2 linked regions of the Homo sapiens genome follow. The protein of the gene in region 1 interacts with the protein of each later gene in a biochemical or structural test. Each region holds a gene or a part of one and is shown on either strand. Other genes may lie near its edges.

Region 1 (3,500 bases):
GAATTGTGGTGGCTCATGCCTGTAATACCAGCACTTTAGGAGGCCAAGGTGGGCAGATCACAAGGTCAGGAGTTCTAGACCAGCCTGGCCAACATAATGAAACCCCATCCATCTCTACTAAAAATACAAAAAAAAATTAGCTGGGCGTGGTGGTGCACACCTGTAGTCCCAGCTACTAGGGAGGCTGAGGCAGAAGAATCACTTGAACCCAGGGGGCGGAGTTGTGATGAGCTGAGATCGTGCCACTGCACTCCAGCCTGGGTAACACAGCAAGACTCCATCTCAAAAAAACCCAAAAAAACAAAAAACCTTTGCTTATTAAGTATAAAGTGATATTAAACTGGTTATTAAAAATATGAAGTGGCTGGCCAGGCACAGCGGCTCACGTCTGTAATCCCAGCACTTTGGGAGGCCAAGGCAGGCAGATCACCTGAGGTCAGGAGTTTGAGACCAGCCTGGCCAACATTGTGAAACCCCATCTCTACTAAAAATACAAAAAATCAACCGGGTGTGGTGGCAGGCACCTGTAATCCCAGCTACTTGAGAGGCTGAAGCAGAATTGCTTTAACTCGGGAGGCAGAGACTGCAATGGGCCAAGATCGCACCACTGTACTCCAGGCTGGGTGACAGAGCGAGACTCCGTCTCAAAGAAAAAAGAAGCAGAACAAATCATAATCAACTGCCCAGCTATATATCCTAGTAGCTCATCTTTATTTTACATCATGTAGTGGGGGAAATGATCAATGTGACCACATGCATCTCTGGTACTCAGATGATGTATTGGCAACACTGCACCACAAAACGCTGTTTTAAACCATCTTACCTCAAGCTTGTGAGCCCTCTCCCTGCTCAGGGGCTCCAAGGGAAAGCTCAGGTTGTTCGCTTCTGCCAGAGAACGAAGATCAAAATAATACTTGGCATAGACACTGGAAGGAACATTGATGTTGAACTGCAGCAATTCAAGAAACTGTCGCTCTAGCTCGTTCCTGCAAAGCAAAGACAAAAATAGCCTATGCTTAGCTGCCACACCAGGCCACGTGGCCTGCCAAGGCAAGTTGCTGGAGACCAGACTCCAGAAAACTGCATCCTCCAGGAAGACCAGTGATCTAAGTAAATGTCTGGTTAGACCACCATATTGGGATTAAAAGCCAAATCCACTTGATCTGGTGCCCAGAAGGATGAGGACTGGTTAACTGGGATCATCACCAGGAAGCGTTTCAGGGCGAATCACTTCACTGAGATCTAACACACACACAGCAGGCTCTGGCTGCAGGTCTCCGTGAGGACAGGCTGCTAACAAAGGGTGGATGCAGCAGCCAAGAGCTGCCACGTGGAGTCCAGTGAGGGCCCTTCCGCAGGGGCCCAGAGGAAAACACTCAGCCTCTGCAGACCTAGAGGACATTGGCTTCCTCGGTGGCCCCTCCCTACCTCCAGGGAGAAAAGAAGGGAGGAACTGTGTAGGGGCTTTCTTAGGCAAAAGGCAGGGATTATGGGGGGAGGGTGTCCAGTCTCTGCCTCAGTCTCTTAAAAAGAGAACTCACAAGCCGGGAAGAATGGAAGCAGTAGTTTCCACACTTGAGCACGCACCCCATCACCTGGTGGGCTTGTTAGAACAGACAGGGGGCTCCACCTTCACACTGTGGGGATCAGTAGGTCTGCAGTGGGGCCTGAGAATGTGCATTTCTAAGGAACTCCCAGATGATGGTGAGGCTGAGGCTCTTGCCCCGGGCCCACACTCTGAGAACCACTCAACTAAAAAGGTAGGTTGGGAGAGGAGGTGCTAAGATCCACCCTGCCAACCCATCTACATGTTGATGGAATGCTGGGAGAAATTCAAAAACTTCTACTTTAAGAACTTCTCATGTCAGCTATCTTTCAAATTAGGTTTATTTCTAGATAGTTCCTCTGGGTGGGGGGAACCTTCTCAGTGAGGGAACTATCTGTGGAGCACTGGTCCTGGGTCATGCACTCAGATTCAGCACGTTCTCCCCAGGAAGCCCCCAGGGGTGCCCACCCACAGGGTGCCCACCCACTGCACACCCTCCAGGAAACCTCCTGTCCTTGCCCACACTATGCAGCATGTGGCTGCTGAACTCAGCCTCTTGGGCTGTTCTCCTCATAGTCAGGAAGTGCAACATCTGCTTTTGCATGCCTGGCCCCCAGCACATGATCTCAGAAGGCTTCCCACAGCAGTGAGAGCTGAACTGAGGTGAGGGAAGCATGGAGCTCTGGCGGAGAGGAACCAGGGCTGAGGAGGGGGTGTTTCAGGCAGAGTGGGTCCCCTCCAACCTGCTGCAGGCAGCCAAAACACACAGTCACCATTTCCTGTGAGTGAAGCCAGGGCCCTAGTGCAGGGCCTCACCCTCCTGACCCTGATCCCAGCCTCGGCATTCTAAGTCATGTCCTGCCAACTCTGCTGAACGCTGAGGGTCTGGGTCTGAGCCTCACATGCAGGCACCATCCTGTCCTGAGTGATGTCCCGAGACCCCTATGGCTGTTCCCGGTGACTCATAGCACTCAGCTATGAAGGACTGAGGAGGGCTCCACACCAGCTCAAGTTGCTGTGACAAAGGACAAGAACAGTAAGGAGGCGGGTGGGGAGGCTGGGGCTGAGCAAGGCCAGTGGCTCTGGGGAGACATGAAGCTGCTGGGGAAAGGAGCACTGGGACCTGTGGGCAGGCGGCAAGGAAGGAGGCCCGAGGAAGGCCCATTCCGGTCTCTTCATCAGATGAAGAGCGTCACTGCTTGTTTCCACACAGCCTCGTGAAAAGAGTGATAACAAGCTCCAAATGTATTTACTGTACTAAATTTCATAGTTTTAAGAATTTAGGCTGGGTGTGGTCACTCACACCTGTAATCTCAGCACTTTGGGAGGCTGAGGCGGGTGGATCACCTGAGTTTAGGAGTTTGAGACCAGCCTGGCCAACAGGGTGAAACCTCGTCTCTACTAAAAATACAAAGAAAATTAGCCGGGCATGGTGGCACATGCCTATAATTCAAGCTACTCAGGAGGCTGAGGCAGGGGAATCACTTGAACCCGGGAGGTGGAGGTTGAAGCGAGCCAAGATTGCGCCATTGCACTCCAGCCTGGACTACAAGAGCGAAACTCTGTCTCAAAAAAAAAAAAAAAAAATTAGTCAGGCATGGTGGTGGGCACCTCTAATATCCCAGCTACTCAGGAGGGTGAGGCAGGAGAATCACTTGAACCCAGGAGGCGGAAGTTGCAGTGAGCCGAGATTGCCCCACTGCACTCCAGCCTGGGCAACGAGAGCGAAACTCTGTCCCAAAAATAAATAAATAAATAATAATTTACTTTGATTTGGGATAATTTTTACTTAAAACAACTTTTATTTATGCTTCATTTAAATGAGATTTAATAAGAGATCATCCTGTGAAATACTGGAATCCAGGTAAGACTTCAACAAAACGAAAGCGTCAGAGGCCCTGCTAAGGCCAGAACTGTCAAACGTCAAAGGAGCAAATCCCAAGTGAACCTGGGA
Region 2 (3,500 bases), on another chromosome or scaffold:
GTCTTTGTTCTCATTATGGAGTGTGTGCGCCAGGGGTGGGTTGGGGAAGCCTGGGGCAGATGGGATGGGGGTGTGTACCTTCCCGGATGGCGGTGCAGGGTGCCCCCTCTTCATGTTCCAGTCTGATCTCCTTGAGTGCCACAAGGTTGTCTGTGAGCTTGCTTTTGCCTTTGTAGACGGTGGCATAGGTACCCTGGAATGTGAGGAAGTGTGACAGGAGAGGTGCTATGAGATTCCAGGAGTTCCCACTGACCTTCATCCCCACCATGGGCCTCCTATTTGCCTCTCACCTCGCCCAGTTTGTCCAGCTTAATGTAGGTCTCCAGTTTCCCAAAGCCAATCTCAGACTGTGGGACAAATGAGGCAGGTTAAAGCTGGCTCAGGAGAAGGGTCTGGGAGAGAAGAAAAAGGAGAGGACGGGAACAGAAGGTGCTTACTAGGCTGACACGACGGAGGCGGCGGCTGAGGGGCTTGTCAAAGATGGGGCTATTGAGGGTCAGCTTCTCCAGGTAGCCCTCAGGCAGCCGGATGTCAGCTGGTAGTGATAGGCGCTTGTTGATGTCCTAGCAGGTAAGGCAAGAGAGAAACAGGATCATGAGCTCCACCTCCCCAGGTCCAACCCCCTTTTCCAGTTCCTCCACCATCCAGACGGGGTCAAGCACCTCAGTGGAGATCTTGCGTGGGGGATGGTTGCGCATACGCACTCTCACTGGAGACTGCACCTCATCCGAGGACGTGGCTGAAGCCTGGTCACTCTCCCCATCAGACCCCATCTTCAAGTCCTCGTGCACAATCTCTGGTGGCAGGGAGAGGGGTAGGGCAGGCCAGGTGGGGTCAGGAACCACAGGACACCCCATCCCCCACGAAACATATTCCATCATCACACATGTGTGCACGTGGCCCCCACAGGAAACCTGGAGTCCCTCGGGGAGAGGGTGATGTACCTGAGCCCAGGGAAGCTCAGGTACATCTAGGGCAGGTTGAACTGGGGGGTGGGGAAGCAAAAGTCACCTAGTGGAACCCTTCCTTCCAAGGGCAAGCTGAGCTCAGAGCCGGCAGCTAGGTGGTGGCAGGGGAAGCCAAGGGTCCTGGGAAGGCAGGCCCAGGGCAGGCAGGTACCAGAGGACTGAGGAGGCCATCATAGAGGGCAGAAGGGCAGAGGGAGCCTTGGGGCAGCTGTGACAGGCAAGGCACCTTCTGTCCCCCACCACGGGGCCTGGGCAGAAAGGCAAGAAGAGGAGCGCAGATGGACAGATAGACAGACGGTGTTGAGAGAAGATGGGAGGGAAGGGGGAGAAGAGAGCACATGGGGGGCAGAGAAAGGGCAGAAAATTTAGAGGAAAATGAGGAATGTGACCAGGAGGCAACACCTGGGAAGCAGCCTGGGGCCATATGGGAGAGGGGATAGCCAGTGGACCCACCTGGTGCAGAGCTGAGTGGGCCCCGTGCAGAACGAAGTTCCCCAGGAGCAGCACGTGTGGGGGCCTCTCCAGGGTCACTGCCGCCACCACCACCACTCTCATCCAGGCCTATCTGCTCAGGGGCACCATTGGTCTTGTCTATGCCTCGGCCACCTCGGAGTGTCATTGACAGCTGCCGTTTGATCTTCTTCATCCGATCCATGGCGATCTGAGCAAGGGACAAGGATGGAAATGGGTCTCTTATTAGCATTTGCTTGATCACCATGGGTTCCCTAAAGCCCACAGCCTAGCAGGGGGCACTGACATGAACTTGTCAGTGCTCACTCAACCACTATGGACCCCAGAGCCACTCAGGAGTTCTGGAAACCCAGCATGGATGGGGATCTTTGTCAGTACCTGCCCACCCACACAGCCAGCCCCACTGGGACCCTGCTCCTACGTAGCCCACCTGAGTTCTCAGATTTAGGTGGCTGATTGAGGGCAAGGGCCCTAACGATGGATTGTTGGGATCTAGGGGAAAAGCCCCACTGCAGGAGCAGAAGGCTCCATTGCAGATCTTCTCAGGTACAGCTGCAGTGATGGGCCCAGCCATGGGTCGGCCAGGGCGTGTGCCCAGAATTGAAGGATGGGTGACATGGTCTCGAGCACGGCCATAGAGTGGCATAGTTCCCCTAGCACCACCCTCAAAGGCCAAGGCAGACTATTCCCTGTGGCCACAGGGACCCTCTTCCTGACTTCTCTAGCACTCATCGTCATGACAACCACTGCATCATCCCATTCATCTACCCAGGTGGGGGGGGGGAGGGGAGCGTGTGTCAGGGTGTCCTGCCCAGACCCAACCACTGGGTGGGATTGTGTGGAGGGCGGGGGGGTCTCAGTGTACACCAGCTCTTCTCAGGGCTGCCAGAACGGTTTGATCAGGTTAGGACCCCTAGGGTCCAATCTAGACTTTTACAAGCCAAGTCACATTTCTCCTCTACTCAAGAATGTACATTTTTCATCACCCCAAATACACGCCCCAGTCCTCAATGTGGCCCACAGGTGTTTCTTTACCTCATTTGCCCCTATTGCCTCTTGCCCACGGCCCCCCCCCACCCCCACACCCCCCCGCCATCATTCCTAGTTGCTGTTCTGCAACCACACCCAGTAGAGTCCCACCTCGGGGCCTTTACACTGGCTGTTCCTGGTACCTGGAACACCCTTCCCCTAAATTTCGAAATGGCTCACTCCCCTCTCCCTTTGGGCCATTGCTCAAAGGTCACCTTTTTCATGAGGCCTCTGTGAATAACCCTATTTAAAATCTCAACCATCCCGAACTCCCTCACCTTGCCAGTTATCCCCCCAGCACTCATTACCTCCTCAGAAATGACACCACCTACTTATTGGTTTCTTTAGTCTTTACTGTCTATCTCCTCACCGCCACAACTAGAAGATCAGCTCCGCCAGGGTAGATTTCTGTGTTTAGGTCACGGCTATATCCTGAGGACCTGGAATAGTGACTGACACAGAGTAGATGCTCAAAAAGTGCTTATGGCAGAAATAAGTGAATCAGGGGGCTGAGGGCCTAGGACCAACCTCTGCTGAGGTGATGAGTCCCTGCTATTCATTGAACAACCCTAAACAAGGTAGCCCAGGGATGCTGGCATCGACAGGAAGATGACCTAGATGGATTGCTGAAGGGAATGGGGCCACCAAAAGGCTTAGGCCAGCCGTCTTCTGCTTCCTCTTGGGCTCTGGGCCAGCAAGGAGGGGGAAAGACCTGACCCAGGAACCATCTGGACTCACAGCAGGGCCTAAGATGGCCCTGGGCCCAAGGGAAGTAGAGCTAGATAGGAGGTCGAGGATGAGACTGGGGCTGGATTTGAGGAGAGAAATGGGTCATCTGCTACCTTGAAATCAGGTGCTTCCCCCAGCAGTTCTCGCCCCCACCTGGCTGAACTCACTATCCCCAGGAGGGGTAGGGGCCACCCTAGCAGAAAGACCTCAGATACAGGATGAGGTCCATCCATGGAGAACCCAGGATAACCACAAAACATCCTGACCTGGGAGGCTGAATACTGGGCCTAAGGCAAGGAAGGT

The links.
Region 2: of the proteins of CCNY (region 1) and CDK16, one has a biochemical effect on the other in vitro, tested with the Homo sapiens proteins (one study listed by IntAct).

Annotation. Positions count from the first base shown.
Region 1 is NC_000010.11:35,563,509-35,567,008, reverse strand, and holds part of CCNY (cyclin-Y), read right to left. Parts: intron 987-3,500; coding exon 824-986; intron 1-823. UniProt on the Homo sapiens protein: Positive regulatory subunit of the cyclin-dependent kinases CDK14/PFTK1 and CDK16.
Region 2 is NC_000023.11:47,221,681-47,225,180, reverse strand, and holds part of CDK16 (cyclin-dependent kinase 16), read right to left. Parts: exon of another isoform or gene 2,921-3,500; coding exon of another isoform or gene 2,839-2,920; exon of another isoform or gene 2,801-2,838; intron 2,131-2,800; exon of another isoform or gene 2,086-2,130; coding exon of another isoform or gene 1,870-2,085; intron 1,630-1,869; coding exon of another isoform or gene 1,624-1,629; coding exon 1,422-1,623; intron 797-1,421; coding exon 663-796; intron 564-662; coding exon 438-563; intron 348-437; coding exon 291-347; intron 194-290; coding exon 79-193; intron 1-78. UniProt on the Homo sapiens protein: Protein kinase that plays a role in vesicle-mediated transport processes and exocytosis. Regulates GH1 release by brain neurons. Phosphorylates NSF, and thereby regulates NSF oligomerization. Required for normal spermatogenesis.